3 separate regions of the Homo sapiens genome follow, and all the other regions are linked to region 3. The links come from fine-mapping of genetic effects on gene expression. A gene starts in region 3. Each other region holds a variant in brackets. All regions are shown on one strand. Distances are from middle to middle.

Evidence for each region. PIP is the estimated chance that this variant, and not a neighbour inherited with it, causes the effect.
Region 1: its variant is the best candidate, but not a certain one, in a credible set for the expression of PLEKHB1 in whole blood (TOPMed, PIP 0.58).
Region 2: its variant is the best candidate, but not a certain one, in a credible set for the expression of PLEKHB1 in whole blood (TOPMed, PIP 0.68).

The regions. Positions count from the first base shown.
Region 1 is chr11:73,731,916-73,734,676 of GRCh38, forward strand. All of the region lies in intron 1 of RAB6A (RAB6A, member RAS oncogene family), which reads right to left. Among named protein-coding and RNA genes, the nearest start is that of RAB6A, 28 kb to the right of the region's middle. The variant T/A (reference allele first, on the strand shown) is at 1,183.
Region 2 is chr11:73,835,831-73,838,591 of GRCh38, forward strand. The region is part of intron 4 of MRPL48 (mitochondrial ribosomal protein L48); the gene reads left to right. Among named protein-coding and RNA genes, the nearest start is that of COA4, 40 kb to the right of the region's middle. The variant C/T (reference allele first, on the strand shown) is at 1,395.
Region 3 is chr11:73,645,040-73,647,752 of GRCh38, forward strand. PLEKHB1 (pleckstrin homology domain containing B1) reads left to right here and starts at 1,542. Exons shown (of 8, transcript NM_021200.3): 1 at 1,542-1,587. The coding sequence starts at 1,570. RefSeq lists enhancers at 1,107-2,025, 2,661-2,713 and a silencer at 2,401-2,620.

The DNA.
Region 1 (2,761 bases), 87 kb after region 3:
TTATTTTTAGTAGAGATGGGGTTTCATCATGGCCAGGATGGTCTTGATCTCTTGACCCTGTGATTCGCCCGCCTCGGCCTCCCAAAGTGCTGAGATTATAGGCGTGCACCACTGTGTCTGGACTGTATTGATATTTTTAGGTTAATCCATATGAAAGTGTCATGAGGTCAAAAGTAGTGGAATGCTGGCAATTTCTTTACCAATAAGCACATTCTCCAAGGGCAAAAACCATATCTGATTATTTTTCTATTTTGCCAGTGGCTTGACACAGACTCAAAATACAAAATGAATGCAAAAAAAACCTTATCAATTAGAAAGGAACTGGGTAAATCAACATCTCCAATACTCCCAAAATGTACTTTTTGGGAGGATAAGAACCATACCTAAAAGGCCGGGTGCGGTGGCTCACGCCTGTAATCCCAGCACTTTGGGAGGCCGAGGCGGGCGGATCACGAGGTCAGGAGATTGAGACCATCCTGGCTAACATGGTGAAACTCCATCTCTACTAAAAATACAAAAAATTAGCCAGGCGTGGTGGCGGGCACCTGTAGTCTCAGCTACTTGGGACGCTGAGGCAGGAGAATGGCGTGAACCCGGGAGGCAGAGCTTGCAGTGAGTCGAGACTGCGCCACCGCGCTCCAGACTGGGTGACAGAGCGAGACTCTGTCTCAAAAAATATATATAAATAAATAAATCAGCCGGGCGTGGGGGAGTGCGCCTTGTAAACCCAGCTACTTGGGAGGCTCAGGCAACAGAATCGCTTGAATCTGGGAGGCAGAGATTGCAGTGAGCTGAGAGTGCACCACTGTACTACAGTCTGGGCGACACAGTGAGACTCTGTCTCAAAGCAAACAAACAAACAGATCTGTTCAGGCAGCTATCCTTTCTCCTCAGTGATTTTCTTTTTTTTCCCCCGAGACGATGTCTTGCTCTGTCACCCAGGCTGGAGTGCAGTGACGCGATCTCGGCTCACTGCAACGTCCACCTCCTGGGTTCAAGCAATTCTCCTGTCTCAGCCTCCCGAGTATCTGAGATTACAGGCGTGTGCCACCATGCCTGGCTAATTTTTTTACTTTTAGTAGAGACAGGGTTTCACTATGTTCGCCTGGCTGGTCTCAAACTCCTGACCTCATGATCCGCCTGCCTTGACCTCCCAAAGTGCTGGGATTACAAGCATGAGCG[T/A]CCACATCTGGCCTCAATTATTTTCTTCATGGCATCTGGAAACTTGTCTTGGTTGGCAGAAGCTGCTTCTGCTGTTACATTGATTTTTTTGTTGTTGTTGTTTTAAGCCAAGTCTTTCAAAAATCATCAAGCCATCCCTTGCTGGAATTAATTCTCCAGCTGTATTTTAGGCCAGGCGCGGTGGCTCACAGCTGTAATCCCAACACTTTGGGAGGCTGAGGCAGGCAGATCACCTGAAGTCAGGAGTTTGAGATCAGCCTGGCCAACATGGCAAAACCTCATTTCTACTAAAAATACAAGAATTAGCCGGGTGTGGTGATGCGCGCCTGTAATCCCAGCTACGCAGGAGACTGAGGCAGGAGAATCGTTTGAACCCAGGAGGTGGAGGTTACAGTGAGCCGAGATCATGCCACTGCACTCCAGCCTGGGCGACAGGGTGTGAGACACCATCTCAAAAAAAAAAAAATAAATAAATAAAAATAAATAAATAAATAAAGAGAATGGACAAATTGTGGCATAGTCATAAAATGAAATATTACAATGACAAAATATCCTAACATGTAAAATTGTATGAACAAATTTCAGACACTACATAGAGTGAAAGAGACCAGATACAAAAGAATATATACTCTGTAATTCTATTTATATGACGTTCAAAACTGGTAGAATTAATGCTGATAGAAGTCAAGAAAAGTTGTAAGGGGTTTCTAACTGAGAAAGGGAGCCAAGGAATCTTCTAAGTGCTGGTATTAATCATTACAAAGGTGAATAAAAAAGTAAAATTTCCAACAAGCCATATATTTAAGATTTGTCTACTTTGTGCCCTTTACTGGATGTTATACTTTAAAATAAAATCTTTTTCTCAAAGAGTAAAACACTTTACTATATATGTATCATTCCCAATAAAAAGTGTATATATGTATGTGGCTATCAAGAACCCCTGATATACTGTGACAAGAAGGGCACTTCACCTTGTGAAGTGAAAAAAACTCCAGTTTAATAACGGAGAAGAATTTACCCAGTTTATCAAGTTTTTGTTTGTTTTTGAGACGGGGTCTCACTCTGTCGCCCAGGCTGGAGTGCAGTGACACGATATCAGCTCACTGCAACCTTCACCTCCTGGGGTCAAGCGATTCTCCTGCCTCAGCCTCCTGGGTAGCTGAGATTACAGGCGCCCGCCACCACGCCCAGCTAGTTTTTGTATTTTTAGTAGAGACAGAGTTTCACCATGTTGGCCAGGCTGGTCTCAAACTCCTGACCTCAGGTGATATACCTGCCTCAGCCCCCCAAAGAGCTGGGATTACAGGCTTCAGCCACCGCACCTGGCCAGTTTATCCAGTTTAATAGTGAGAAAAAAAAATGGCAAACCCAAATTGGAGATAAATCTACAGTAGCAGTCACCAATCTTTTTGGCACCAGGGACCAGTTTCATGGAAGACAGTTTTTCTGTGGGAGTTGGGGAGGAGGAACGGTGGATGGTTTCAGGATGAAACTGTTCTACCTCAGATCATCAGGCATTAGATTCTCATAAGGAGCATGCAACCTAGATCCCTCACATGCACAGTTCACTATAGGGTTC
Region 2 (2,761 bases), 190 kb after region 3:
AAGGTTGCAGTGAGTCGAGATCATGCCACTACACCCTAGCCTGAGTGACAGAGTGAGACTCTGTCTCAAAATAATAATAATTTTAAAATGCCATTTATTTATTTATTTTTAATTTATTTTTTTGAGACAGGGTCTCACTGTCGCCCAGGTTGGAGTGCAGTGGCGCGATCTTGGCTCACTGCAACCTTTTCCTCCTGGGTTCAAGCAATTCTTGTGCCTCGGTTTCCTGAGTAGCCAGGATTACAGGTGTGCACCTCCATGCCCAGCTAATTTTTGTAGTTTTATTTTTATTTATTTACTTTTTTTGAGACAGGGTCTCACTCTGTCACCCAGGATGGAGTGCAGTGGCACCATCTCGGCTCACTGCAACCTCTAGCTCCCAGGTTCAAGCAATTCTGGTGCCTCAGCCTCCTGAGTAGCTGGGACTACAGGCGCCTGGCTGCAACCTCCACCTCCTGGGTTCAAGCGATTCTCCCTGCCTCAGCTTCCCAAGTAGATGGGATTACAGTCACTCACCACCACATGCCCAGCTAATTTTTTGTATTTTTAGTAGAGACGGGTTTTCACCATGTTGGCCAGTCTGGTCTCGAACTTCTGACCTCAGGTGATCCTCCCACCTCACCCTTCTAAAGTGCCAGGATTACAGGCATGAGCCACCGTGCCCTTCCAAAAATGCCACTTATTATTATATACCAGGTGCTGTAAGTACTATGTGCCAGGCTTTAAAGACATTATTTCATTTTATAGCCTTATAAACATATATATTATTTAAGCCTTAGAGTATCATATGGTTATTCAAGACCCTGTTTGAGGAATCCAAGACTCAGAGAAAGATTAAATGATGTGCCCACGTGGCTAGAAGTTTTCAGAGCCGATATTTGGAATGAGGATGGCCAGAATTCATCTAACATCTCTAGTATTTCCATTTCATATAAATTCACTCTATTAAGCTTCACAATAACTTTAGCTGTTACAGATGAGGAAACTGAGGCCTAGAAAGGTCACACAGTGTCATGTAGTGACTAAGCAGATAGTTAGGATTTGAGGTCAGATTTTCTGTGGCTTCCATCTAAGTCTAGTGCACTTTATATAGCATCAGGCCATGCCTCCTTGCTACCCCAGTCAGAGCCAGGCCTTTTGTCCATATGTCTCTCAAGTGTATAACACCAGGTTATAAACATACTCAATCGCTGCATACCTCACAGCTCATTATGGACTGTTGATAGTACTTAACCCCAAATCATTCAAATCCTCGGGTGTAAATTTTGTTATTTTCATCACTAGAATTTCTGGAAGCTGAATATGCTGCAGGCATATCAGCCTTTTTGTTTGAGGATTCAGATAATGGATTAATTCTTATCCAACTTTCTCACCCTGGAGAATGTCACTTATAG[C/T]GATGGGTAGATACTATCACTTTAAAGGAGAGAGCCTGGGCTTGGGGCTGCAGACTCAGCTTCCAGTTCTGGATAGACATAAAGTTGTTACCTTTGCCCTTGTCTTGCTGTTAAACCTTACACAAGCCATTTTCCTTTTCTGGGTCTCAACTTCCCCCTTGTGTAGAATTAGGGGGAAGGAGAGATTAAATTATCTCTAAGATCCTTTCTGGCTGTAACAGGCTATGATTCTAATTTGATTCCTTTCTTTATCTGCTCTTTCCAGCAAAGTTTCTCAGTAACCTTGGGCAAATAACTTACCTTCAGAGGACCTCAGTTTTCTGTCTGTGAAATAGGGGTAATAATGTGAACATTTGTGTACAAAACTTGTTTCATAATTTACCCTATAGTCTATTTGGGGGACCAGAGTGCAGTCCTACAAGGACCTAAGAATGACAATCCTGGGCCATCCCTTAGTGAATCTAGGCCATAGGAGTGCCAACGTTTGATGATGGACAGTAGTCCATCCTCCCTACTACGTTTCTCCTAACTTCCTTTCCTTTCCTGCCTGGCTGGCCTTCATGTGCAGTCAGGTTGGGCTTCCCAAAACACAGCTTTATTCATGTATATCCTTTGCACAGATTTATTTATTTATTTATTTAGAGACAGAGTCTCGCACTGTTGCCCGGGCTGGAGTGCAGTCAGTGGCATGATCTTGGCTCACTGCAACCTCTGCTTCACGGGTTCAAGCGATTCTCCTGCCTCAGCCTCCTGAGTATCTGGGACTACAGGCACCCGCCACCACGCCTGGCTAATTTTTTTGTATTTTTGGTAGAGATGGGGTTTCACCATGTTGGTCAGGCTGGTCTTGAACTCCTGACCTCATGGTCCGCCTGCCTCGGCCTCCCAAAGTGCTGGGATTACAGGCATGAGCCTCCACTCCTGGCCCACAGATATATCTTTAATAGTTCCTCATGGCATTCATGAAGTCCTGAACTCAATCAGTAGGCATTGAGAGAATGGGATGGATGTGAGAAAAATTGTGTAGATAAAATGACAGAAACTGGCATCTGGTATTATATGCAGTTAAGCTCTTGCTGGCTATGCTGTGCCCTGGCTCAGAACTGAAATATGTATTGTAATATCACAGTGGGATCTTGATAATGTGAATTGGTTCAGGTAGATCTAGGCCAACATGGGAAAGCAAATGAGATGCCAAGATGGACACTGGGATCAGCTTTCTTTTCTTTGTTCCCCTAAAGCAATACCTTTGGAGAGTCCTGGCATTTTCTGTGGTTAAGAAAAGCCTCCTACAGGCTTCAGAGAAGCTCCTCCCCTCTCTGCTGGAAAATTTCAGCCACTCTCCATTGCATTCTGACTTCAGCATT
Region 3 (2,713 bases):
TGTAAGTAGTAAATTTGAATTTGATGAGCCAGTCCACTATTTCCTAAACAATGTATTATCTGTGGGCTGTTCATTCACCAGGGACACTTGAAATGGCAAAATCTTTTCCTCTCTGCCAATGGTTCTGTGCACCATAGCCACAAAGAAATGTAAAAGTTACTTGTTGGCTTATTAGTCTCAATAAGTTTTAGTTGATTGAACAAACAAAGTCTCTCACAGCCAGGACTGCTGCGGCTGGAATTCCTGACATACTGTCATACCTCTCACTCGTCAATCTACACTCTCCTCCCATCTACACAGCTCTGGAAATTAAAAACAATCCAACCATGACTATCATGGCTTCAGAGGTCTATGAACTCCCAGGAATTATACGCAGATTTTTTCCTGAGGACAGTCTACACTTCCTTATTGGCTTCTCAAAGAGGGTCACTGACCAGCTTTTAGAGACATGGGCCAAGTCCGGCTACGTTTAGATTCGGTAGTAGTGTCTGTGGTTTTAGTTTGCCACGTCCTTTCCTCTTTTTTTCGTCATAGTGCCCGCTCTTTGGGAGGTAGGGGAGAGTCTTCCCCTGAAGTCTCCACTGCTGCTGGAGAACCTTCCTTTTTCATCTGGTTGCTAAATCCAGAGAATGAAATCTAGGAGATGATTGCACCGTCCCCGCCCCTCAACATGAAGGATGCCCCACTGCCCATCGGGGAGGGGAGCAGGGAGAGCTGGAGAGAGGCTGGGTCGGGGCAGGACCCAGGCGCAGATCCTCCGAGGCCAGCTGCAGCCCTACCTACCTGCCTTCCCGTCTTTCCCCTCCCTTCTTTTCTCCTTCTGTCTTTCCTTCCTTCCATATCTCTTTCCTTGCCTCTTTCCCCCTCCCACTGCTTCCTTTCTTCCTTCCACTGTGGAGGTGGAAAATTTAGCTAGGAGAAGCTGGGACTGGGACGTTCCAGGAACCAGACAGAGAGTGAGTTAAAGGCACAGAGATGAAAACGCGGTATGGGAGAGCTGGTTCTTGAGTCGGCTAAGAGGGGATGAACTCAATGGTTAATAGGATTGGCCATGGCGAATCCCTCAGCAGGGCACGCACCGCACAAAGGGCCGAGGAGCGAGGGTAGCTCGAGGTCAGGATTACAGAGACTCAGGAGCAAGAGAGGAAGGCTTAAAGAGCCAGACTGCGCAGCCAGGACTGGGGTGATGGGCGCTGTCCTGCCAGGCCAAAGAATGAAGATGTAGCCCCGCCCCCAACCTAGGGAGGAGGACCAGCCCGGTTCCTGTCCTGCCCCCGCAACCTCGCCCCGATTCCACTCCGGGAACCTCGGCGATGCTGAGCCAAGACCACTTCTGAATCAGGGATGACTTGTCTAGTGAACCTAGGGTCAGAGCCATCAGTTGGAAAGGCTGGGAGGAGCCTGGAGAAAGAGGGCGACCTTCCTTGGGATCTGTGCGCTCCCTCCTTGCCTCCCCCTCCAGCCTCCCACTTGGTAGCACCTTCCTGATCCCCTTATCTCTAAGGCGCTCAGGGAAATGCCCCGCTGCGGGAGCCTTCTGGGAAATGCTGCCCTGGCCACCCAGGAACCATGAGCCCTGCAGCCCCGGTAAGGAAGAGTTCTCTGGGACAGGAGGAAGGGCCCAGGGCAGGGTGGGCACCCTTGCCACATAGGGGACGGGACAGAAGTCTTTTAGGCCCTGACATCCTCTGGTCTCTGAATGACATCCTGTGGCTGCTGGTAGGTGAGGGTTTGCGGGGCTGAGCTATTGAAGGAAATGATCACAGTCCGAGGTGATAGATACAGAAAGTCTTCCTTTCTCCAGGTGGGCTCCCGCCAGTCCATTCTTCACTGTGCCCTAGAGGGGCCTTTCCGACCCCCTAATCACACACCTCACTCCTCATCTTGAAACTCCCACCCCCAGCTCCAGTCACTGCGTCCTAACATCCAAGCTCTCCGCCTGTCATGCAAGGCCTCTGTGCTATTTCTTTCCAAACCCTGCAGCTCTATCGCCTGACACTCCCGATGCCCTCCCCACCCCTGCGCTTTATGTTCTAGACACACGGAAATGCTGGGCACTCTTCAACATCCTGACAGTATTCATAGGGGAAATTTCGGGTCGCCTAGGAAACTGCCCCTCATCCTCCAAGGCCCCTTTCAGCCTCCTCTGGGAAGCCTTCCTGAACCCCTTGAGAAAAGTCAGGCTCATCTTTTCCATTGTTAAATCACACCTTGTGCTCCAATTGTGTGTTTCCATGTAATCTCCCTCACTAGACTGGAAGCTGGGGATGGAAAGGGGAAGCATCAAAAAAACATGCAAAACTAGGAGCTTGGCTTCTCCTTGCAACTTTACTTTTTCTTTTTTTCTAGGAACTGAGTTCAATGATTCTTAAGAAAAAGTATTTCATGATAAATGAGTGAACAAATGTCTTAATAGAAAAGTAAAATTGCAGGCGGGGCTGCTTCTGCCCAGCTCTACAGGGGTAGACTACAAGTCCCAGTACGCCTCGGGTCAGCATCTCTTCACGTCACTCCCCCTCCCTGGGGTGGGCAGGTCCGGAGGGCGGGGCCCGGGGGCAGCTGGGCTCTCAGGCGCTGCGGGAGGAGAGAAATGCCCCAGGCTCTCCGGGGCACACAAAGCGCAGGCGCAGCGGGTTGGGTGGCAGCAGCATCGAGTAGCGGCCGCTTAGGCAGCAACATCCGCAACAAGTGTAGACAAGGTGGGTGCATCAAG